5 separate regions of the Homo sapiens genome follow, and all the other regions are linked to region 5. Evidence: fine-mapped expression QTL. A gene starts in region 5. Each other region holds a variant in brackets. All regions are shown on one strand. Distances are from middle to middle.

The links. PIP is the estimated chance that this variant, and not a neighbour inherited with it, causes the effect.
Region 1: its variant is fine-mapped to the expression of PANK2 in whole blood (TOPMed, PIP 0.93).
Region 2: its variant is fine-mapped to the expression of PANK2 in whole blood (TOPMed, PIP above 0.99).
Region 3: its variant is fine-mapped to the expression of PANK2 in whole blood (INTERVAL, PIP above 0.99).
Region 4: its variant is fine-mapped to the expression of PANK2 in whole blood (INTERVAL, PIP 0.98).

Annotation. Positions count from the first base shown.
Region 1 is chr20:4,004,432-4,009,535 of GRCh38, forward strand. All of the region lies in intron 1 of RNF24 (ring finger protein 24), which reads right to left. Among named protein-coding and RNA genes, the nearest start is that of RNF24, 8.6 kb to the right of the region's middle. The variant A/T (reference allele first, on the strand shown) is at 2,189.
Region 2 is chr20:3,923,328-3,928,431 of GRCh38, forward strand. It overlaps PANK2 (pantothenate kinase 2), which reads left to right. Exons shown (of 7, transcript NM_001386393.1): 7 at 1-5,104. It overlaps RNF24 (ring finger protein 24), which reads right to left. Exons shown (of 6, transcript NM_001134337.3): 6 at 3,984-5,104. Among named protein-coding and RNA genes, the nearest start is that of MIR103B2, 8.3 kb to the left of the region's middle. RefSeq lists an enhancer at 2,709-2,878. The variant A/G (reference allele first, on the strand shown) is at 2,104.
Region 3 is chr20:3,998,244-4,003,347 of GRCh38, forward strand. The region is part of intron 1 of RNF24 (ring finger protein 24); the gene reads right to left. Among named protein-coding and RNA genes, the nearest start is that of RNF24, 15 kb to the right of the region's middle. The variant C/T (reference allele first, on the strand shown) is at 1,987.
Region 4 is chr20:3,908,501-3,913,604 of GRCh38, forward strand. It overlaps PANK2 (pantothenate kinase 2), which reads left to right. Exons shown (of 7, transcript NM_001386393.1): 3 at 2,077-2,330; 4 at 3,958-4,134. Among named protein-coding and RNA genes, the nearest start is that of MIR103A2, 6.4 kb to the right of the region's middle. The variant T/C (reference allele first, on the strand shown) is at 2,698.
Region 5 is chr20:3,886,220-3,891,323 of GRCh38, forward strand. It overlaps PANK2 (pantothenate kinase 2), which reads left to right and starts at 3,168. Exons shown (of 7, transcript NM_001386393.1): 1 at 3,168-3,509. The coding sequence starts at 3,212. It overlaps PANK2-AS1 (PANK2 antisense RNA 1), which reads right to left and starts at 2,954. Exons shown (of 2, transcript XR_001754478.3): 1 at 2,520-2,954; 2 at 150-2,330. RefSeq lists an enhancer at 2,243-2,794 and silencers at 2,803-2,862, 3,053-3,552.

The sequences.
Region 1 (5,104 bases), 120 kb after region 5:
TCAAAAAGATATGTCCATTTCTTAACACAAGGAATCGGTGAATGTGACTTTATTTGAACCGACTTTATTTAAGAAAAAAAAAAGGGTCTTTGCAGATATAATTTAAGGATCTGGAGATGAGAGCATTTTGGATTATCTGAATGGATTCTAGATCCAATGGCAAGTGTCTTTATAAGAGAGAAAGAGAAGACCATATGAAGACAGAAGCAGAGACTAGAATGTGTGGAATCACCAAAACCTGGAGGAGGCAAGGAAGGATTCCCCTCTAGAGTCTTTGGAGGGAGCACAGCAACCCTGCTGACACCTTGATTTTGGACTTCTACCTCCAGAACTGTGAAAGAACAACTTTCTGTTGTTTAAAGCCACGAAGTTTATAGTAATTGTGTTACAGCAATGTTAAGAAACTAATAAACCCCCTTTGCTCCATCTGATTCTGACAAGTCATTTTTATTTACTGCAGTAGCTCTGCAGGAGCATCAGAAGAGATTTAAAAAATATAGATTCTGCCCCCTACCCCAAATCTCTTCTTATTCTCCTGCTATTATCTGCAAAGATCTCTGCACTTCCATTATCAATAGCCCTCCAGAGGTGCCAGTACAGGATAACATCTGAATAGTAAAGAGACTGTATTCTTGTGAAAAGTTGATAACATCCACTGTGACAGGTGGTGGGCTCTAGAGGATGAAGGCCTAGGTTCAAAACTGGACCCTGAACTTGTAAACCTGAACAGGTTACTTCTTTGACATTTAGTTTGTCATCCATAAACAACTCTTTGAGGATTGCTGTAAGCAGTAAATAGGCAATATATTTAAAGCTACTGGCATAAAAGCTTTTTAGTGTAGGTTAACCAATATGAAAGATGATTTTCTGAGTATAATATTGCCCCTGGCTATTGATATACTGTTCTGTGATTTAAGAAAAAAAAAATCTTACTACGCCGAAAATTCCATCTGCCCTGTTTACAGAGATAATCGACAAGTTTGAGTAAAAGCCTTTATTTAATTATAGCCATGCATGAGATTTCCAACACATTTCTGAAGAAGTTTTGCAACTTGTTTCATGCTGAAGAAAATGAATGAAAGCCTACACCTTTGATTTCCCTTCCCACCCATTTCCCACAAACTACATTAACTCATAATTTGACGTTTCATTATCTGTCAACTTTTTTCATTCAGTCCAAGATAAAGAGACTATTTAGATATAATATTTAGGTTCTATTTCAAATTTATATCACTGAGCATAATTTCACATGCTCAGATTTGGGAAGGAACAATAAAGAGATACAGGTAGCTATAATTTTTTTTTGGTTTGCCAAGATGAACTTAATAAACTTAACAGATACTGCAGCACCATTCAATCTGCACATTTGAAAAAAAAATTAAGGCAACATAAAGCATACTGATAGACAGCAGTGAAACTATTAATTTTGAGAATTCAATAAACACTGTCATCAAATGAACTGAATGCTCATTATTCTTACAGTATGATATTTGCACTTATTTTGCTGTCAATTAAACAATTATGATATTAAATCTGCTAAAGGAAGTGAAGAACTGTATCTGATACAAGCACCTGTCTAATCGGGAAAACATAAGTACCATCAAAATGAGAGACAAGCTAAGACTACATACATAATTAACCTTCTATAGAATCTATGGTTTATGGCTAGGTGTGGTGGCTCACATTTGTAATCCCCGCACTCTAGGAGGCTGAGGCGGGTAGAACACCTGAGGTCAAGACCAGCCTGGCCAACATGGTGAAACCCTGTCTCTACTAAAAATACAAAAATTAGCTGAGTGTGGTGGCGCATGCCTGTAATCCTAGCTACTTGGGAGGCTGAGGCAGAAGAATCGCTTGAACCCAGGAGGCAGAGGTTGCGGTGAGCAGAAAGAGCACCACTGCACTCCAGCCTGGGTGACAGAGCAAGTCTCTGTCTCAAAAAAAAAAAAAAGTCTATGGTTTACACAGGAGCAAGCTTTACAACAAGATGGAAAAATTTTCCTAATTCAAATGATCAAAACTTTAGAAGATGACAACAAAAGGAACGGGCAAACCTCACTTTAAGAAAAGTTGACAAATAAAAACAGGAACTTTAAAAGCAGGTAACCTGGAAGTTACTTACAATATAAAAACATTCACTACAGTTCATTGCAACTTTAATACACCTAACAGTAGTGAATCCATAAAA[A/T]TTCAAATTACATTAAATTTCCAGAGCAAATTTGTAACACGAGGTTCACTTGTAACATTATCTAAATAGCAGTTTCCTTTCCCTTGCCACTGCAGGCTTTCTCCAACTCCCTGGGGTACTATGGAGGGCCAGTGCAACTCTCTGGTATCAGACTATCCTTAGGGCACATGGAGGGCCCAGGCCAGCTTTCCCAAGAGTGGCCAGCCAAAAGCAAGGCCACTGGCCAGCTATTCTTGGGCCAGCTGGCATGGAACAAAGTGTCTGGTTCCTACCTCCAAAGCACAGGAGGCTCTGCCAGCTGGCTTTCAAAGGACTGCACTAGTTGGAATGCTCACAGTTCCTTTCAAACCATCTGGCATTCTTTTAGAACCCTCAATTTACCCAACACTACATTCTGAGATTTGAATTGCTCAGATAATTGAAGGAGTCCCCACTACCTACCTAGGTAAGAAAAGAAAGAGGCAGAGCAAACGCTAAGTCAATTACTTCAAGAAACAGTTTCTACAACTAAAAACTGCTCTCAAGTTTAGCTTGTATATTTTGTATTTTAAAATCTAAAATATTCCCATGATTATTAAGCAAACTTTCAAAGTAAAAACCAAGACAAGTAATAAGAGAATAAGCTAAAACAGACTATTTAACATGCAGAAAAGCTGTAGGAATCCCTTAGGGTTAGAAGTACCTGACTCTCCCTAGCCTGAACTTCTACAGAGCCTGTCTGTATTTTTTATGTGGTCCTCAGAATATACTTCGTACTGCTACATATATTTACCCTCCCAGCTAGCTAGTAGATGAAAAGAACATTGTCTTATAGCTGTTTCAAAAGAAAAAAAAATCTGTTGATGATATATTGGGTGTTTTTAAAGCTCCATTTCCAGAAATAAGAAAACTTAATGTGGAATAACATGAAGAAAGAACCTCACCTCTGAGAAAACCAAATAAACAAAGAACAGGACTTGGCTTGAAATAAAAATATTTTATCAAGTGATCAAAATGATTTATTGGCTGGGCATGGTGGCTCCTGCCTGTAATCCTAGCACTTTGGGAGGTGCTGGTAGGGTCACTTGAGCCCAGGAGTTTGAGACCAGCCTGGGCAACATAGTGAGACCCTGTCTCTACAAAAAAAAAAAAAAAAAAAGAAAAAAAATTAGCCTGGCATGCTGGTGTGTGCCTGTGGTCGCAGCTACTTGGGAGGTTGAGGTGGGAGGATTGTTTGAGCCCTGGAGGTTAAGGCTGCAGTGAGTTGGAGATCACACCACTGCACTGCAGCCTGGGCGACAGAACAAGACTCTCTCTCTTAAAAACAAACACACCCCCGCCCCCCACAAAACCAAGAACAGCTGAATCATCATATTGATAGCCCATATACCCTAGGAGATATAGTATTTTGAACAAAAATATTATAGAGACCAAGTCAGAGTCAAATATTATAAACTGGAGGAGGCTATAATAATTACTATTATTTTTCATTGAGTTTACTCCCAAGACGAGTACTGAGTTTCGTGTTTTACATATTATCTCATTTGGAACACAAAACAAACACATGAGGTAGGAACTATTATTAACCACATTACAAATGAAGAAAGAGAGAGGTTAGGAAACCTGCTGGAGGTCACATAGCAAAAAGTGAAAGAGCTGGAATTCAACTCCAAGCAGTCTGATGCCAGAGTCCAGGTGCAAGACTGCAAATATATATATATATTATATATATAATATATATATTATACATGTAATATGTATAATATATATATTATATATATAATATATATATTATATATGTAATATGTATAATATATATATTATATATAATATATAATATGTATAATATATATAATATATAATATATAATATGTATAATATATAATATAATATAATATATATATTATACATATTATATATTATATATATATTATTTATATATATTATATATATATATATTTTTTTTTGAGACAGAGTCTCGCTCTGTCACCCAGGCTGGAGTGCAATGGCACAATCTTGGCTCACTGCAACCTCCACCTCCCAGGTTCAAGCAATTCTCTGTCTCAGCCTCCCGAGTAACTGGGATTACAGGCACCCGCCACCACACCCGGCTAATTTGTTGTATTTTTAGTAAGATGGGGTTTCACCATCTTGGCCAGGCTGGTCTTGAACTCCTGACCTCATGATCCACCCGCCTTGACCTCCCAAAGTGCTGGGATTACAGGCATAAGCCACCATGCCCGGCCCAAGACTGCCAATATTAAGTCATACTTATGAAAGAATGAAATGTAACATAGGGCAAAATTTGATCATTAATATATTCTTCATAATTGTTTCAATTCTTAAGTGTAGCAAAAAATGGTGAGTAATTAAAAAACATGGATTCTCTTGTTAGAAATTTTTAAAAATCAAAAGCTATTTTACCAGGTCAGTTGTGCCTCTTTTGCCCATGTACTGAGTAGACACTTGTGCCACCTGCTGTCCTAGGGGACAGAGTGGTAAACAGGACAGATGAGGTCCTTGCCTTCCTGGAGCTGACCTTCTATTAGGGGTAAGTCACACAAAAATTATTAAACAACAGAATTTCAGAGGGTGGTACGTACTATAGAGGAGGTAGGGAAGGCACGTAAACTTCTCTTTTGAGAGACTTAACCATGTAGGTAAATAGAAAGGGATAGAGGAGGGTCAGGGAAAAGTTGTTTGCTGAAGCTTATTCTGATTTTAAAGATGGGCAACGTCACGGCATATGTGTATGCTGACATGGATAGCCCCCTGGAGAGTTGCTGATGATGCAAGAGAGAGGGCAAAAATGCTAAAGCTGTGAGATATGAGGGGGCATGAGGTATAGAAGATGTGAGGAGGAACACAGTAGAAAGGGGAGCTTGCCTCCGACAGGAGACAGAAAACATGGGTCTAAGGAAGGCAGATTTCTACATT
Region 2 (5,104 bases), 37 kb after region 5:
ACAATGGGATCTGTGGACTTTCATTTTTTTAAGAGACTTACTCAATTTCATGACTGTACTACCTGAAACAAAGTGAGAAAGGACAGGTGTATTTTTCTAAGTCATCAAGATAAATCCTTAAGAATTCAGTCTAAATTAGCAACCAGGAAGGAAAAATATATTAAAAACAACAAAAAAGTGGCACATGTCCAGGCAGTGTGAGGATTTGCTGTATATAAGTTGCCTGCTTTGTATTTTTGAAATCTCTGCATCACTCATTGGAAGTGCTTCTGAAGAGAGCTGCTCTGTGTTCAGTTGACTGGTTTTGTGTCCTGTTTGAACTTGCTGAATGTAAGGCAGGCTACTATGCGTTATAATCTAATCACAATTTGTCAATATGGTCTTGGCAATCATCTGTGCATTACTCTGGTTTGCATTAAGCCTGTGTGTGAACTTACTGTAAAACATGTTTTATTTCAAGGTTCTGCAAAATTAATTGGGCAGGTTAATTGTGTACCTGAAACTTAACAAGCAGTTTTTGGAAGGGCAGTTCCACGTTACTTTACACTAAATCCTGGGAATGAATGTCTGGAGAGACAGGGCTTCTTTTCTTGGCAGAATTTCCTTGGGTAGTGGGCGGACTGTTCTGATGCAAGTGGGTACACTGGCAGAAGCAGCACAATCTGGAGGACTAACATGAGTCAGCAGGGCCACTAGAATTGACACCCCCTCAGGGGATCAGGGAGAATCTGGTTTTTCTTTCAGGCTAAGTAGAAAAGGAAGAACTGAAGTGTCTGTCAAAGAACTCATGGGGAGTGGGGGGTCCTTCAGGGCACTGTGGCACTTGGGAGGTGAGTCTCAGAAGACTGCCTGAGGAGAGTGCCAGGCTGCAGGTGCTCTTGGTAGGGGCTGAAGCTTTTCTTTCTGCTTTGCAGAATAATTTCAAAAGCCTTTCCCAAGGAGAGAATGCACCTTTTATATCTGAGGTCTTAAGTGGTGCCCATATTGCTGTTGAAGGCAAGGATGGGCCTGTACAAAGCAGCCTTGGACCAGGAGGGAAAACCCCAAGGCTCTGCAGCCTCCCTGCTCCCCTCCGTTTAAGGCTGTGGTCAGGGAGGGATGGGCAGGGTGCCAGCCGCATGGAGGCAGCAGAGACACCCGTGTTCCAGCTGGGGCAAGGGGAACTGATATGTGGGCTGTGGGCTGTTCCACTAGGCGTGGCCACCTCTGCACATGGGCCTTGGCACTTAGGAAATATGGGTGCTGCTGCATTGGGACCTTGTGTGGGTGCAGAGCAGGATGGCTGCTGCGTGGAGGGTAATTTTGTCCCCTGGAGAGTGATTGGTGACCCTCTTCCCTGCTGCTGCTGTTTGCAGGCTCCTGGCCTATACTACCTCTGACGCCCTGATCCTGAGTTCCTCTGCCCTCCTCTGCTGCCAGCAGCGCTGTTGGTGGCCTCACCCTCCTCCAGTACCCAGGCACCAAAGATGGCACCACCATCCTCCTGCTTGTACCACAGGGTGCTGCTCCCTGGGCCAACTCCTGTGAACTTGCTCACTTCCCATGGAGACCGAGGCCAGGGCCTGCCCCTCTGAGGCCCCTGTTTTGTGGTCCTGCTGCCTCTGCTGTGCTGCGTTCAGGAGGTTGTCCACTGCTCGACGTGGGTCACCATGCAGCCCTTGCTGTTCCCACAATTTAACAGAAAAGGAAACTGAACGGATGAGTAAGGCTGCCCAGGGTCACTCAGCTGGAAAAGAGTAGAGCTGGACTCAAACCCGGGACTGTCTGTCTCTGGTGCCTGAGTTGGGAAGACGCTGTTGATGTCCCCTTCTGCCTCGCTTTGAGCTTCCTCCTCCGTGGGCCCTCCCCCTACTCTAGAGAAACTAGTCCATTCCCTCATGTTCCACCTTGTGCTCAGTAAACCCTGTCACTCCACAGCAGGGTTTTTGAGACAGTCTCGCTGTGTCACCCAGGTGGAGTGCAGTGGGGCGATCTCAGCTCACTGCAACCTCTGCCTTCCAGGCTCAAGCAATTCTCCTGCCTTAGCCTCCTGCGTAGCTGAGACTACAGGCATGTGCCACCATGGCTGGCTAATTTTTATATTTTTAGTAGAGATGGGGTTTC[A/G]CCATGATGGCCAGGCTGGTCTCGAACTCCAGACCCCAGGTGATCCGCCTGCCTTGGCCTCCCAAAGTGCTGGGAATACAGGTGTGAGCCCCTGCGCCCGGCTCACAGCAGGGTTCTTGATAGGCCACCAGTGAATCCCATGCCACCGAATCTGGCATTCATTTCACAGCCTCATCTCAGTTCTCACTCAGCAGAGCCCTCTTGCCTGTCCTGCCACCCAGGCTACTAATGTTCTGGTTCATTCTCTGCTGACAGTTAGCTGTGGCTGTCCTCAGCCTCAGTCCTGGGTCTCCCCAAGCAGTCATTAGCATCACCTTGACTGATTTCCAGGGAACACTTCAACCACCCCTTACCTCTGAGCTCCAGCCCCGAGACACTGCCTTCTCTCTGCATTTGTTGATCTCTGTGCAGCAGTGCCCACATCCTCATCCCAGCTTACTGCCGTCTCACCACCTTCAGGTTGTGAGGTGCCCATAAACTCTGCTGTTACCATTGCCACTTCCCTGTCTTAGCAGCTGTCCCTTTCAGTCTGCCCTCCACTAGTGGCCATGAAGGGGGCTGTGACCGTGGTCCAGGTGAGAAAGGAAGGCCTGAACTAAGATGGGAGGTGGGTGGCCAGAATGGAGAGGGGAGAAGTGGATGGCCAGAATGGAGAGATGCTTAGAGGGCTGTGTTGGGAAGTGGTGACTGGATACAGGGGAGGGAGGAGAGATACAAGAGGGCACCTGGGCTCATTTGTGGACTACGTGATTTTGAGACTCCAAATAAGCACTGGGTATTTGGGTTGGAGATACAGAGCTGAGAATGATATGCATGTAGGTGGGCAAAGCAAGGGGGATTTCATGAGTTCTAAGGTAGGGTGAGAAAAATAACCGAGAGTTGAGCAGTGACGGAGGAAGCTGCAAAGAAAACGACTGCTCAGGGAGAGGCTGGCCAGGGGCCTGTGGCTCAGGGGACTGAGAAGAGGAGCTCTCTAGGCATCTGAATTGAGGTTGCCCACAATTGGTTGCAAGATCGTGGCTGGCCTTGATGGAAGCTGGGAAGCCACTCGGTCCTAGTGAGGGGTGGTGAGGAGAGCAGCAACGGCCACACAGGAAGGCTTTGGACGTTTTTTCTCCTGACACTAGTTATTTCCAGGCCTGGGATATAGCTAGGGGCTTGGGGTGGGGGCAACTCTTTGCAGGGTGGTGTGGCCTGTGGAGGAAACAGGCTCAGTTCCACTACTTTGGCCAGGTGCAATGGCTCATGCCTGTAATCCCAGCACTTTGGAAGGCCAAGGCGGGTGGATCACCTGAGGTCAGGAGTTCAAGACCAGCCTGGACAACATGGTGAAACCCCGTCTCTACTGAAAATACAAAAATAATTAGCCGGGAATGGTGGTGCGTGCCTGTAATCCCAGGTACTCGAGAGGCTGAGGCAGACAGTTGCTTGAACCTGGGAGGCAGAGGTTGCTGCAGTGAGCCGAGATTGCTGCACTGCACTCCAGCCTGGGTGACAGCAAGACTGTCTCAAAAAAAAAAAAAAAAAAAAATCCGCTATTTCAGGTCACCCTGGTGCTGGCGTTCACGTGGAAGACTGCTTATCTGTATCCAGCTGTTTGCAGAGCTCAGGGAGGCCAGGGGGCTTCAGACTCCACTGTACTCTGCATTCCAGGATTCTCTGTTCTCTGGCTGTGGTGGCCTGACACACTCTTCACCACTGACCCCACCCCCGCTTGCACACTATGCCACAGGAAGGGCAGGGGCTTCCATCACAATCACTCAGTACTAGTTACCAGCTCTGATAGAATTACTCACCTTGAGTTTCCAAGTCTTGCTGAAGGTGCTTGCGTAAGTGGCACATGGATGTTCCCTCTGTTCAAAGGCATATGCACAACACTATTTTTCAAAATTTGCTTTTATTTACACGTTTGAGTCAATTACATGCATGTTTTATTTTTGAGGAGTGATTAGCAAAATGCATTAAAATTTTAAAATAGCAATTAAATATACAAAAATATAGCTTACAAAAAACTGCGAATGTTTAAAAATATTCTGCTGCAGAATTTTTAGTGTACAAAGACGTCTATGAAACCTGAGGTTCAGCATTTCATAAACCTTTTTTTGAGGGAGTTACACAATACCTAGTGAGGAAACCCGAGGGCCAAACTACAAGACGAAAAAGTGCCCCGTTCCTGGCAATGATGTCAGAAGACCAAGAGGCGATAGTTACCAGCAACACTCTAGGAAGACCAGCTGTCACCAGAAGGGAGTTCCTAACACTTGCCACACCTGCTCCCCCGACCGGGGGCCTGGGAGGGAAGGGCAGATGGAGAGGAACGGTGTGCAGTGGGCGTGAGATGCAGATCCACCAGGCTTGGGACTGGCAAAGGGAGCTGAGAAGAGAGTTCCCCCAAAGCACAAACAAGTCTGCTGACACTGGTGGGGCCCTTACAGTCACAGAAGTAAGGACTGGATGGTAAGCCAAAGGTGCTGATGCTTGGTCAAAAAGTGGAGTACATCTTTGCATCTTGTAACAATTTGGGCTCTACAGCTGAATTGGCAAAGTAAGGTTTACTACACAAGCCCCTCTTTTTCTTCTGATATCCCCACTCAAATGGAAGCACACTCCCCAGCACATGGGGATCCCTTATTAATCTTTACTAAAGAACCGTGAACCAGCATTTTCCAGTTATCAACTGGATATTTAGGCATGAATCTGGACATGTCCATCTGCTTAAGAAATCTGCTTAAGAAATCTGTAACAGCTACAGGAAAAGACACACCCAGGGCCAGAGATTCTACAAATGCCAGAAGAGTGGATGTGATAGAGAATTTTTTCTCAAGTTTTGGGTTAGGGCACCAGTTGCAATTTTAATCCAGGGGAGGATCTGGGCTGCTGCTGTAGGGGGCAAGTACACCAGGGAGGTGGGTGTGGACAGAGGCACTGGGCAGCTGCTGGGAAGCGAGGCACAAGTCTGTGCCCCTACTCCCAGGGCTGCCTGGAGGAAGCAGCTCTAACT
Region 3 (5,104 bases), 110 kb after region 5:
ACCTGACCAACAAGGTGAAACCCCGTCTCTACTAAAAATACAAAAATTAGGCTGGGCGTTGTGGCTCACGCCTGTAATCCCAGCACTTTGGGAGGCCAAGGTGGGTGGATCACCTGAGGTCACGAGTTTGAGACCAGCCTGACCAGTATGGTGAAACCCCGTCTCTACTAAAAATACAAAAATTAGCCAGGCATGGTGGGACATGCCCGTAGTCCCAGCTACTTGGGAGGCTGAGGCTGGAGAATCACTTGAACCCGAGAGGTGGAGGTTGCAGTGAGCCGAGATTGCAACACTGCACGCCAGCCTGGGCAACAGAGCGAGACTCTATCTCAAAAAAAAAAAAAAAAAAAAAAAAAAAAAAAATTAGCCGGGCGTGGTGGCGTGTGCCTGTAATCCCAGCTACTCAGGAGTCTAAGGCAGGAGAATTGCTTGAACCCAGGAGGCGGTGGTTGCAGTGAGCCAAGATCACGCCATTGTACTCTAGCCTGGGTGACAGAGCGAGATTCCGTCTCAAAAAATAAAATTAAATTAAAAAAAATAAATAATGTAACACGTGACTGGGTGTGGTGGCTCACACCTGTAATCCCAGGACTTTGGGGGTCAAGGCGGGTGGATCATCTGAGGTCAGGAGGTCAAGACCAGCATGGTCATCATGGCAAAACCCCATCTCTACTAAAAATACAAAAATTAGCCGGGCGTGGTGGTGTGCACCTGTAACCCCAGCTACTCAGGAGGCTGAGGCAGAAGAACCGTTTGAACCCGCAAGGTGGGGGTTGCAGTGAGCCAAGATCAGGCCACTGCACTCAGGCCTGGGTGACAGAGCAAGACTCTGTCTCAAAAAACAAAACAAAACAAAAAACAAAAATGTAGCATGTAACCATAGATATCATATAAGAATGTCTGAGTTATGCAGGATAGTCAGCTGGAAAATTAGTTACAAGAGAACAGCAAATAAAAGTGAGAGTGTTGCAACAGTTTTAGTTACAACAGTCCTATAGAGTTGCACATTATTATCCTTTGTACTGAAAGATTCACTAACAACCATGACATTATTCATATATACAAATGCAGCTAAAAGGAATGATGGGACATGAATCTTTTCCACATTCTACACTAGAACACCATTCTTAGGTCTATAGCTACAGTAACCGTTTATAGGGCTTTTCTCGTCATTTGTGACTGAAGACTCATGAAACACTAGTCAATTTTCTTTGTTTAAAAAAAGTCACGGCCGGGTGCAGTGGCTCACGCCTGTAATTCCAGCACATTGGGAGGCCGAGGCGGGCGGATCAGCTGAGGTCAGGAGTTTGAGACCAGCATGGCCAACATGGAGAAACCCCATCTCTACCAAAAATACAAAATTAGCTGGGCGTGGTGGCGCATGCCTGTAATCCCAGCTACTCAGGAGGCTGAGGCAGGAGAATCACTTGAACCCAGGAGGCGGAGGTTGCAGTGAGCCGAGATCATGCCATTGTACTCCTGCATGGGCAACGAGAGGCGAAACTCTGTCTCAAAACAAAACAAAACAAACAAACAAACAAAAAAAGTCACTTCATCTTTTCTTCCTTCAGGATAAGTCAGTATATCTCTAAGAGCCTTAAGATAAAAAAGAACATGGATGAACCTTGAAAACATCATATTAAGTGAAAAAAGCCAGTCATAAAGGATACATTTTTAAAATCCTATTTATATAAGAGGCCCAGAATAAGCAAATCTATAGAAATAGAAAGTAGATTGGTAGTTGCTTAGAGCAAGGGAAGGGGGAGGAGCGGGGAGAATGAGGGGACTGAGGAGCGAAGGCCATTCTTTTTGGAATAATGATAACTAAAATGTTCTAAAATTGATTGTGGTGATAGACAGAAAACTCTAATATTCTAAAAGCCACTGAATTGTACACTTTGAGCAAACTATATGGGATATAAATTATGTCTCAATAAAGCTGTTAAAAAAAGGCAAAAGAGAATTGCCTAAAACAATCATCAAAAA[C/T]GGTATTTTAATGGCCAGATGTGGTGGCTCAAGCCTGTGATCCCAGCACTTTGGGAGGCCGAGGTGGGTGGGTCACCTGAGGTCAGGAGTTTGAAACCAGCCTGGCCAACATGGTGAAACCCTGTCTCTACTAAAGATACAAAAAATTAGCCAGGTGTGGTGGCGCATGCCTGTAATCCCAGCTACTTGGGAGGCTGAGGCAGGAAAATTGCTTGAACCTGGGAGGTGGAGGCTGCAGTGAGCTGAGATGAAGCCATTGCACTCCAGCCTGGGCAACAAGAGTGAAACTCTGTCTCAAAAAAAAAAATTATATTAATGCATATATAATCTCCTTAAAAGTTAAGAACTATGTAGTACAGTTAGGCAGTTACAATTTTTACATCATCTGACATCCACCGAAATGGAACTTCTGACCAGCCACAGTTCAGCAGCCAGGCTAAGCTGGCTGCATAACTGAACTCATATTTATAAAAAGAGGGGAACTGAGATGTAGCAAAAATTGTTTGTTGTTATTCCTTGCTTAATAACAATAATCATTAGGAGAGCTAAGGAGATAAACTACACTCACAATAACTGGAATATTCAATGATAATTATCCCCATTTTGAGGCTAAATAGTGATTCACCAAGGCCAAATAGGTAACAAATAATAGGGTCAAAACTTACTTGAATCCCACACGCTTTTCTGTATATCACCCTGCTTCTTTTTTACCTTTATGGAAATTTACTTGGAACTTACTATGCAAAAATATATGTGGCCAGGCGCAGTGGCTCATGCCTGTAATCCTAGCACTTTGGGAGGCCGAGGCAGGCAGGTTACCTGAGCTCAGGAGTTCGAGACCAGCCTGGGCAACACAGTGAAACCCTGTCTCTACTAAAATACAAAAAATTAGCCGGGCGTGGTGGCGTGCACCTGTAGTCCCAGCTACTTGGGAGTCTGAGGCAGGATAATTGCTTGAACCCGGGAGGCAGAGGTTGCAGCGAGCTGAGATCATGCCACTGCACTCCAGCCCAGGTGACAGAGTGAGACTCCATCTCAAAAACAAACAAACAAACAAAAAACCTCATGAAGAGCCAGTTTTTTTCAAATTACAGGAACTTTTAAGTCAGATCATATGTAAAATGCCTGAAAAAATATTAAAATGATATCAGATCTAATAAACTCAGAAGTGAACTAAAACAATAAAATGTAGTGGGGTTATTCATCAAGTGCTTCTTACCACAAATGTAGCTTTCTGTAAATTCAGGCTGAATATGAGGCACATAAAATAGTTATTGATATGAATAAAGGTAAGATTGTAAATCCAAAACACATATTGGATGAAATAATTGAAATATTACTTAAAAGACAAAAATCACCCTTATTTCTGGTAGAGGAAAGAAAGCAGAATGTGTAAGATTTGTGGTCACCAAAGAACAAAGTTTCAGGCCAGCATGGTGAATCACGCCCGTAGCCCAGCACTTTGGCAGGCCAAGGTGGAAGGATCGCTTGAACCTAGGAGTTCAAGACCAGCCTAGGCAAGAGAGTAAGACCTCATCTCTATAAAACTTAAAAAAAATTAATAAATAAACAGCTGGGCATGGTGACATGTGCCTGTAGTCCCAGCTACTCAGAAGGCTGAGGTGGAGAGATTGCTTGAGCCTGGAAGTTGAGGCTGTGGTAAGCTAAGATTGCACCACTGCACTCTAGCCTGGGCGACAGTGAGACCCTGCCTCTTAAAAAAACAAACAAAAAAAAACAGGGCCGGGCGCGGTGGCTGACACCCATAATCCCACCACTTTGGGAGGCCGAGGCAGGCAGATCAGGAGGTCAGGAGATCGAGACTAGCCTGGGCCACATCATGAAACCCCATCTCTACCAAAAATACAAAAATTAGCCGGGCGTGGTGGCTCATGCCTGTAATCCCAGCACTTTGGGAGGCCGAGGTGGGTGGATCACGAGGTCAGGAGATCGAGACCATCTTGGCTAACACAGTGAAACCCCGTCTCTACTAAAAATATAAAAAAATTAGCCCGGCGTGGTGGTGGGCGCCTGTAGTCCCAGCTACTCTGGAGGCTGAGGCAGGAGAATGGCGTGAACCCAGGAGGCGGAGCTTGCAGTGAGCCAAGATGGTGCCACTGCACTCCAGCCTGGGCAACAGAGCAAGACTCCGTCTCAAAAACAAACAAAAAACAAAAAAACAAAACAAAACAAAACCTCAGCAAAGAAAGGTAAAAGATAAAGGATAAATGAAACAAATGTGGCAAAACCTTGTTAATTGTTGAATCCCACTGATAGGCACAGGGCCATAATAAAAAAATTTAAAAGAAGAACCTCACTAGCAGAAAAGTCTGAAAAAATAGTGTAGGTAAGTCTATTAAGTAATATTAATCTCAGGTAGAAAACAAAAGGATCAATGAAAAAAGTCATGGCAGTTGATTATTTAGAAACAGAATAAATTATATGGAAAATATCATTTTTTCCTCAGATATGACCAGACAGCTATATAATATAGTTTCCTGAAGTAGGTTATTTCACTGGAAATCAACAGTAGATAAAATACAGTTTTTATATAATACATTTTTAAAAAAAACTTTAGGAATGCAGCTGTCCATTTACTCCCCTTAGAACTGTGTCACGCTTTTATATAATTCTGGTGTTCTAAATGGATGGTGGTAGTGAATTGAAATAGAGAAAATGAAGACACAGAAAACAGAAGTCACAGCTGCATTCTGAACTGAATGCTTTGAATTTTTCTTTTTCTTTTCTTTTTTCTTTTCTGAGACAGTCTCACTCTGTCACCCAAGCTGGGGTGCAGTGGCGCGATCTCAGAACACTGCAACCTCTGCCGCCCGGGTTCAAGTGATTCTCCTGCCTCAGCCTTCTGAGTAGCTGGGATTATAGGCGCCTGCCACGGCGCCCGGCTAATTTTTTTGTATTTTTGTAGAGACAGGGTTTCACCATCTGGGACAGGCTGGTCTTGAACTCCTGATCTCGTGATCTACCCACCTCGGCCTACCAAAGTGCTGGGATTACAGGCGTGAACCACCACGCCCGGCCCAGAATTTTTCTTTTTGTGTAATCATTTTCTAAGAATCCAGGGCCTCCTTCACATCCCTTCTGAAATAGTATTTTAACT
Region 4 (5,104 bases), 22 kb after region 5:
TGCTCCTTTAGTATGAAAAATTAGGGCATCTGCTATACGTTGAGGAAGAAACTACCTAAAAGGAACATCATTAGATCATGAACAATGAGATTGAAATATAATTAAAATCATTTCATGTCATAAAATTGTTTTCAGTCTTGTCTACCACATAATTTCTCTTGTCTCCCTCAGTTGTTTGCTGGCATGTTCACTAACTGAAAAAAATAAGGAACTCTGGTCAAAAGTGGTGTTTTCAGGCTCAGGGCTGGTCTGAGATGGGTGACTGCAGAGCCCTCCTCTCCCAGAATGCTTTCTGATGTGTTCTGTGCTGCACACTTAACTGGAGTCTCGCCACCATGTCTGGCCCCTGGGGAATGCTGCCAGGCGCTCTATCTTGCTTTCATTGAGTGAACACTGGAGAACATTGTGAGCAAGACCTTGAGGCTAGGTCCTTTCAGGGTGGATGGTGGGGGTAGGCCGGAGAACTGACAAATGAATAAGCCAAGATCCTGACCGTCAGGGTGCAATACAGATTGAAAATGTCTTCAGTGACTGACTGTTTTTCTGTTGCTAAATGAGAGAATATTAGTCTGAAAGAGATTCTGCCTTTTTGTTTTGTTTTGTTTTCTTGAGATGGAGTTTTGTTCTTGTTCCCAGGCTGGAATGCAATGGCTCAACACAACCTCCACCTCTCGGGTTCAAGCGATTCTCCTGCTTCAGCCTCCCAAGTAGCTGGGATTACAGGCATGTGCCACCACGCCCGGCTAATTTTGTATTTTTAGTAGAGACAGGGTTTCTCCATGTTGGTCAGGCTGGTCTCGAACTCCTGATCTCAGGTGATCTGCCTGCTTCAGCCTCCCAAAGTGCTGGGATTACAGGGGTGAGTCACCTTGCCCGGCCCAGATTCTGCCTGTTATTCTGCATGTCTTTTAGTAGAGATGGGGTTTCACCATGTTGTCCAGGCTGGTCTGGAACACCTGACCTCAAGTGATCTGCCTGCCTCGGCCTCCCAAAGTGTTGGAATTACAGGTGTGAGCCACCGTTCCTGGCCTCAACTTTTTGACTAACATGCCTTGGAGTTCTTCCCACTTCAGAACATAAAGATCCTCTTCATTTTTGTTTTGTTTTGAGACGGAGTCTCGCCCTGTCACCTAGGTTGGAGTGCAGTGGTGCCATCTCAGCTCACTGCAACCTCTGCCTCCTGGGTTCAAGAGATTCTCCTGCCTCAGCCTCCCGAGTAGCTGGGTTTACAGGCGTGCACCACCATACCCAGCTAATTTTTTTTTTTATCTTTAGTAGAGACTGGGTTTCACCATGTTGGCCAGGCTGATCTTGAACTCCTGACCTTGTGATCCACCTGTCTCAGCCTCCCAAAGTGCTGGGATTATAGGCGTGAGCCACCGTGCCCGGCCGATCCTCTTCATTTTTAGTTGCTATACAGTGCTCCATAATACGAATAATAATTTAGTCATTCCTTTATTATTTAAATGGAATTAATTGATTATGAAACAGTTCAAATTTTGACTGCTAAAATTCCCCTCCCTCCCAAGAGGCTGTAGCTAGTTTAGATAGTGAAAAAAATCTTACCTTCTAACTGGATACTTTCAGCCTTTTGGCTTCAGTTTGTTAAATAATGTGTGGCCTCTTTTGATACTGCTCCAAAGCCTTGAGATGGTCCTCTGTCACAGTCCTTGTGGCTCCCACCCTGTGTCACAAGGTGGTTTCTGATAGTGCTGTGGCCTGAGCTTGGTATCAGCCCCATTGTCCCTGTAAGCAGAGATCTGAATTTCTGTTTGAAGGTTGATAAATGCTGTGGTTTTTTTTTTTTGTTTTTTTTGTTTTTTTTTTGGTCACACTTATTCAGCTGCTGCAGTAGTTTCTATGTAGAGTGTATTTGGGTCTGTAGTAGCAGGAGTCTGTCTCAGCACTGTGTCCCTAGGTTTGCTCCTAAATCTGTTCTGTAAAGCATGCACAAATAATACACATCTGTGAGTGCACTTTCATGGTTGTTTCACGTAGTGGGGATGCCTTATTGAATGGAATTTTTGTTTCTGTTGGCTTATTAAAAAGTCTGAGTACATTCTTATTTCATTACAGATAGGTGATCTTCAGCTTTGCAAACTGGATGAACTAGATTGCTTGATCAAAGGAATTTTATACATTGACTCAGTCGGATTCAATGGACGGTCACAGTGCTATTACTTTGAAAACCCTGCTGATTCTGAAAAGTGTCAGAAGTTACCATTTGATTTGAAAAATCCGTATCCTCTGCTTCTGGTGAACATTGGCTCAGGGGTTAGCATCTTAGCAGTATATTCCAAAGATAATTACAAACGGGTCACAGGTACTAGGTAAGTTGTATATAAAACTCACTGTTTATTCTTAGTATCCTAACGGGCTGAGTTTTCAGGTATTACATGTAACTACACCTTCAAGAACCTGTTAGGTGAAAGTGTTTCTGGATTATGCAAACAAATGTTTCTCTTTGAAAATTCTGATTTTATGACCTAGTTTTCTTTAATCTCTACTGTTCAAGATTTATTATCCTAGGTGTTTCTTAAAAGATCACATCAGCAGACTCATTGTAGCCTTTGCCCTCAGATAGTTTATGGTGTGCATACACAAAGTAGCTAAAGTTATTAGGCAGCATCTGTAAGGAGAAGGCACGGGAAAGGACCTAGCTCTGAAACCTGTGTAAATTTCATGCTTCCACACACA[T/C]GTGTGTGTAGAATAATGATGTATTCTATGTATGTGATTTAGAAGTTGATATGTACTGATCAGTAGAAAAATTATTGAGGGAAGGTAGTATGAAAAGAGAGGATTAGCCGGGCGTGGTGGCTCATGCCTGTAATCCCAGCACTTTGGGAGGCTGGGGCGGGTGGATCATGAGGTCAGGAGTTCAAGACCAGCCTGGCCAACATGGTGAAACCCCATCTCTACTAAAAATACAAAAATTAGCCGGGCGCAGTGGCAGGCGCCTGTGAATCCCAGCTACTCGGGAGGCTGAGGTGGGAGAATTGCTTGAATTCAGAGGGTGGAGGTTGCAGTAAGCCGAGATTATGCCACTGCACTCCAGCCTGGGTGACAGAGTGAGACTCCGTCTCAAAAAAAAAAGAAAAGAGAGTATTAGGGCCAGGCACGGCAGCTTATGCCTGTAATCCCAGCACTTTGGGAGGCCGAGGCGGGTGGATCACCAGAGGTCGGGAGTTCGAGACCAGCCTGGCCAACATGGAGAAACCCCATCTCTACTAAAAATACAAAATTAGCCGGGCGTGGTGGCACATGCCTGTAATCCCATATACTTGGGAGGCTGAGGCAGAAAAATCACTTGAACCAGGAGGCAAAGGTTGCGGTGAGCCGAGATCGTGCCATTGTACTCTAGCCTGGGCAAAAAGAGCTAAACTCCATCTCAAAAAAAAAAAATGAGGATTAGATGGAAGAAGAGAATGTTTCGGCTTAAGGGTCAGAGGTCACTTCAGGAAAAACAGGCATCTAGGGATTGGGATAAACAATTTTTTTAAAAAAACAGTTGTGATTTAAATAGAGGAGTAATTTTTTTGTGACAAAACACGTTGCAGGAGGAGTATGTTTGGGGGTGTACTGATAAGCCAGGGTGACAAGGTGCTTGGATGAGAATGACTCAGGGAATGTACTTGGAGAAGGGAAAGGGAGGAGGTGTTAGCATGGCCCCAGGCGTGTCAGGCTAATTTGCACCTGAGGCTCTTCATACTTGGCAGACAGCCAGACTGCACTGGGGACATGGGCCCTGTGTTTTGTACTTTGCATGTTGGCTCACATGCATATGTACCTTAAAGGTGTATATCAGGCACCTTATCTTTTCACAGACTTGTTTCCTACCAGTGGCATTTGCATGATTGGGTTGGATATGTGAATATGGTTTTGGGGTTCATAAATGTTAACTTCTTGTTCTTATTTTTAAAAATGTTATAATACTGTGTTAATTGTTTTTAATCATAGTCTTGGAGGAGGAACTTTTTTTGGTCTCTGCTGTCTTCTTACTGGCTGTACCACTTTTGAAGAAGCTCTTGAAATGGCATCTCGTGGAGATAGCACCAAAGTGGATAAACTAGTACGAGATATTTATGGAGGGGACTATGAGAGGTTTGGACTGCCAGGCTGGGCTGTGGCTTCAAGGTAAGGGGGCATGTGTGTTCTAAGAAATACAGGCGGGCCGGGCGCGGTGGCTCATGCCTTTAATCCCAAAACTTTGAGAGGCCGAGATGGGCAGATCATGAGGTCAGGAGTTTGAGACCAGCCTGGCCAACATAGTGTAACCCTGTCTCTACTAAAAATACAAAAATTAGCTAGGCATGGTGGTGCGCGCCTGTAGACCCAGGTACTTGGGAGGCTGAGGCAGGAGAATCACTTGAACCCTGGAGGTGGAGGGTGCGGTGAGCTCCAGCCTAGGTAACGGAGTGAGACTCTGTCTCAAAAAAAAAAAAAAAAAAAAAAAAGACATAAAATAATAATATTGGGCATATTTTTTAAAAAAGCTCTATTGAGATATAATTTACGTACTATAAAGTCAGCTGTTTGAAGCGTACAATTTAGTGGTTTCTAGTATATTTACAGGATTGTGCAACCATCACTGTAATCCCAATTTTAGGACATTTTTATCATCCTAGAAAGAAACCTTGTGTTCATTAGCTACGACTCTCCATTCCCCCCACAGCCCCTGCCAAACAGTAATTTATTTTCAATGTAGGTTTGCCTCTTCTGAACATTTCATATAAGTGGTATCATACAGTATATGATCTTTTGTGATTACTTCTTCATATAGCATATGTTTTCAAACATTCACATTACAGTGTGAATCAGTACTTTATTCCTTTTTATTGCCAAATAATATTTCTTTTTTCTGAGACGGCGTTTTACTCTTTTTGCCCAGGCTGGAGTGCAATGGCGTGATCTCGGCTCACCACAACCCCCACCTCCCAGGTTCAAGCAATTCTCCTGCCTCAGCCTCCTGAGTAGCTGGGATTACAGGCATGCGCCACCAAGCCTGGCTAATTTTGTATTTTTTAGTAGGGAAAGGATTTCTCCATGTTGGCCGGGCAGGTCTCGAACTCAGGTGATCTGCCGCCTCAGCCTCCCAAAGTGCTAG
Region 5 (5,104 bases):
GAATCTGGCTAGTTTCTCTGAAGCTCTATGCTTACCATTCTTGTACTTATTCTGGTGTATACAACCAGAAAGTTGGCTTCTCTCTAGGGGTAAATAACCGGAGAGTGATAAAGAACTTAGTTCTCACTATAATAACCACAGAGAAAGGATGCCTCTTGTTAGGTTCATTTTACTTTTTTTTTTTTTTTTGAGACGAGTCTTGCTCTGTCACCCAGGCTGGAGTGCAGTGGCGTGACCTTGGCTCACTGCAAGCTCTGCCTCCCAGGTTCATGCCATTCTCCTGCCTCAGCCTCCCGAGTAGCTGGGACTACAGGTGCCTGCCACCATGCCTGGCTAATTTTTTGTATTTTTAGTAGAGATGGGATTTCACCGTGTTAGCCAGGATGGTCTCGACCTCCTGACCTCGTGATCTGCCCACCTCGGCCTCCCAACGTGCTGGGATTACAGGCGTGAGCCACCGCGCCTGGCCTCATTTTTTTTGAAAAAAAATAAAAAATAAAAAATAAAAAAATCTAAGCTTAATCATAGATTTACCTTACTCTGCTCCAAGGCAATTTTTCAACTTTTTAAAAAATAAATGTTTTCTTTCAGTATAATACCCAAAAAAGTGCACAAAATGTCTTGATAACATATTACAAAGGGAACACACCCATGTAACCCCCACCCAGATCAAAGAAACAGAATATCATTAGCCATCTAGAAGCCCATTTGGTCATCTTCATTTTCTTTTTTTTTTTTTTTTTGAGGCAGAGTCCCACTCTGTTGCCCAGGCTGGAGTGCAGTGGTGCAATCTCAGCTCACTGCAACCTCTGCATCCCAGGTTCAAGCAGTTCTTCTGCCTCAGCTTCTGGAGTAAGTGGGATTACAGGCACGCACCACTACGCCCAGCTAAGTTTTGTATTTTTAGTAGAGACAGGGTTTCACCATGTTGGGCCAGGCTGGTCTGAAACTCCTGACCTCCAGTGATCCGCCCGCCTCAGCCTCCCAAAGTGCTTGGATTACAGGCATGAGCCACTGTGCCTGGCCTAATTTTTTTTATTTTTTATTTTTTGTAGAAGTGGTCTCGAACTTGTGGTGTGCCTTCTTATTTATTTATTCATTTTTTTTTAGAGACGGAGTCTCACTGTCTCCCAGGCTGGAGTGCAGTGGCACGATCTCGGCTCACTGCAACCTCCGCCTACCGGATTCAAGTGACTCTCCTGCCTCAGCCTCCCAAGTAGCTGGGATTACAGGTGCCCACCACCACGCCCAACTAATTTTTGTGTTTGTTTTTTTTAGTAGAGACGGGGTTTCCCTGTGTTGGCCAGGCTGGTCTCGGACTCCTGACCTTGTGATTCGCACGCCTCGGCCTCCCAAAGTGCTGGGATTACAGGAGTTGAGCCACTGCGCCCGGCCGCTTTCTTTTGGTTATCATAAGGCGGGCAGTAGCTGAACTTCTCAGGAGTCCAAGCTCTGTCATTCTTTAGGCTTTGTGCTTCTGGATAAGTTACCTCATCATCCAAATGTTACTGCAAGGACTAAGTGAGATGTAGAGGCAGTGGGCAAATTGTGTAAAAATACTACTGTTTCAAGTGTTTTGATGTTGGAGTTCATCTTGCCAGCCAAGGGATGATGATACTTTGATTCTTCAGGATGATCAGAGCTCAGACTTGGACGGAAGCTCCCTCAGGTCAAGGAGGACCACATTTTTTGGGGGGTGGAGAGAGGAGGCAGAAAGAGAGGCAATGTCAGGCACTGAGATTTAGAAGAGTAGCTATAGCTGTTTTTGGTTCTTGTAGATCCGTCTGTGTTGGCTTCCTACAGGAGCTAGAATTTTCAGAGCTAGTCCTACAGTGAGGGGAGCTAACGTGGAGTGGGCGTGAGAATTCTATTCAGCAAGCACAAGCGAAGCTCAACCTTTTTGTTCAGCCTGCTACAACCAATCATTATGGGAGAGGGGAATAAGGATCACTGCCCAAGGGGCATTAGGATCACTGCCCAGTGGGCATTACAGTCTCCCCAGGGAGGCACTCTTTTTTATTTTTTATTTTTTTTGAGACGGAGTTTCGCTCTTGTTGCACAATGTTGGGTCACTGCAGCCTCCGCCACCCGGGTTCAAGCAATTTTCCTGCCTCAGCTTCCCAAGTAGCTGGGATTATAGGCATGGGCCACCACGCCCCGCTAATACGGAGGCACTTTTAATTAGCCCACAGTCCAGTGAAATTTGACGGAGTGAGGAAGTGACCTCAGAGTACAGAACGGGATGGGATCCTTCCGGGCTTGGGCAGCCTTTGGTAGTGGGGATGCTTGGAAGGGTCAGGGTCTCAGTCCTGGAGGTGACCAATTTTTCTCTCCAAAAGAGAAAGGAAGATGATTAAAAAAAAAATCCATGCTCCAAAGCGGCAGCCAAATCCTTCTATGGCCCCCAATGCATCACCCAGAAAGGGGCTCCAGACTCTCCTGCAAAAGGCCAACTCTACTTCCCGGCTCCCACTTCCCCTCCTTCGCCACAGGAGGGTGGCGAAGGATTTATAACCCACCTCTTTCTTTCAGTTGCCATGGAGACAAGCCCCAGTCCTTTCATTCCTTCTGGTACCTCTCTCTCCAACGCAGGCGGAAAGGAGGCGGCTTAGCCCAAACATGCTGGGGGAGGGGCTGGCGGCCTCGACGGCAGCTGCGGAACTAGGCCGAGGGACAAAGGCTAAGGTCAGCCGCGGTTCAAGCCCTTTCGTCTGCCGACGACCAGCGGCCAGACGCTGCGGGAGCACTGCTGGGCTGGAGGAGGGCTCGAGCTGCGAGGACGGCACGGAGCAGCGGGGTGGGACTCGGGGTCGCCCCAGGAGAGTTCCGCGGCCCGGGGGGGCAGAGGCATGCACAAGTGGGGGGCGGAAGGAGGGGGTGGATGAGGAGGCTCGGGCCCTTCCACCCACGCGTCCATTGGGCGGCGCCGCCATCACTCTCTTCTGGGCTACACCGCCTTCTCTTCCTCCGCGGAACCCGGATCCCCTCCTCCACCACCCTCTCCCCGCCCCGTCACGATAGCCTCTCATTGGACGGAGGCACGGTCAATCCTCCTCGAGTTAGGGAGCCGACTGGACGCGAGGCCTTTGGGCCGTCCCCAGCCTCGTCGGATTGGCTTCCTGCGCGTTGGCGCAACGGAAGAGGCGGCCGGCCGAGGGCGCGCCTCTGCTCTGGCTGGACTGCCGCGGAGGAGGCGAGAAGGAATCCGACGCTGGGGGGCTTGCTCGGGCGGCAGCGACTGCTGCTGCGGATGGGAGGGGGCCGGCTCGGCGCGCCCATGGAGCGCCACGGCAGGGCTTCCGCCACCTCCGTCTCGTCGGCTGGGGAGCAGGCGGCCGGGGACCCCGAAGGGCGGCGGCAGGAGCCACTGCGGCGCCGGGCGAGCAGCGCGTCGGTGCCCGCGGTCGGGGCCTCGGCTGAGGGCACGAGGCGGGATCGACTGGGCTCTTACAGCGGCCCCACCTCGGTCTCCCGCCAGCGCGTCGAAAGCCTGAGGAAAAAGCGGCCGCGTAAGTGTTCCGTGGGGCGCCCTCCCGGCCCGCCCTGCCCCCCCTTCCGGCCCACCCTGTCCCCTTCCGGCCCCGCCGCCGTTTTTCCCGCGCGCGGACACTGTCCCCGCACGGTGGTCCCTCGTTGGTGCGTGGCCTGACATCCGGCTGGAGGCCTCGGGTGCTCCGAAAGCGGTACCTTCGGGGGCCCCCCCGCACCCATTGGTATGCACTTCCCGCTTGTTGGAGTGGAGGGCTTTTCCCCAGGACCTGTCCTCCCTTTTCTTAGCTCCTTGGGCATTCTCTTCCTGAGGGTCACATGATTTTATCCTCGAGAAGGCTTCTTTTGACTCATTTCCACCTCCTTTCCTCCCAAATCCTTTGAATCCCCAATGTTTGTTTTCCGTGGGTTTCCAAAGAGCTGCTCTCTAATACTTTAAGTCCCTTTTATTCGTCAATTTCGGGCTTACTGGAAAATGGTGAACTGCCCCTTGAGTTGCACCAGGCCTGAAACTGTATTCCGTGCACCTCTAAGGTGGCTGCCCTTCTTCTCGTGAGAATCCAGGTCATCTCTCACCCACATATCCCCTCCGTTTTCCTTCTGTCTATTTGCAGGTACTCACGATTCAGAACTGTGGCATTCTGGGCATTAAGGCTCTTTGTTTTGAGGGGAAACAACATCTTTCTGAATTTTGCCTTGGGAGTTGCATACGCTCCTCCCAGAGAATCCGTTTCCCCATTTTATTAGGTTTCTTTTTCTGTGTTGTGTATTTTCTCCCCTTTACAAGTCTTCAATTCAGGACCGCTGCCTGGCAGCCATTGCTGCTGTTGAAAGTATCAATTGTCCTGATACTGTAATATGAGCTTTACAGTGTGATGCCATTTTACATATGGTTGGACTTTTTGGTGGGTGTTGCCAGATTCCTATTTCAGGAAATTGACTTGTTTAAATGCAGATTGTGAGAGGGAGGGAAAATGGCAAGATGTGAGATTTTTATTGAATAGTCTTCTACCTTAGCCCAGTCACCCAACTGCTTTTTTGAATCTTCTCTGATATGGATGATTAAATGTAGTTCTATTTTGCTGTGAAAAGTTTGGGAGTTTTCAGTTCTTTTGTCTTTTTCCATCTTCTTGCAACAGATTTGGAAAACAGATTCTTAACCTGTGCCATTTTCAGAGTCAGTCACCTAGTTTTGTTTTATTTGAGAAGCACCTGAGTTTGAAGCAATGCAAAATATGAGATCCTTCATGGTTTTGTATTACATCGTTGGAAATGGATGTAAATTCCAAAGATTCAGCAAATAAGAGTATAGCCATTAGCCACAAGGGTTTTTTTGGTTTGTTTTTTGTTTTTTACTTTGAGACAGCGTCTTGTTCTGTTGCCCAGGCTGAAGTGCAGTGGCATGATCATGGCTCATTGTGGCCTTAACCTCCTGGGCTCAAGCCATCCTCCTGCTTCAACCTCCTGCATTGCTGGGACTAAAGGCACGTGCCACTATGCCAGGCTAATTTTTCAATTTTTATTTTTTTAAATAGAGATGGGATCTCTTATGTTGCCCAGGCTGGTCTTGAATTCCTCCTGGTCTCAAGCGATCTTCCCACTTCGGCCTCCCAAA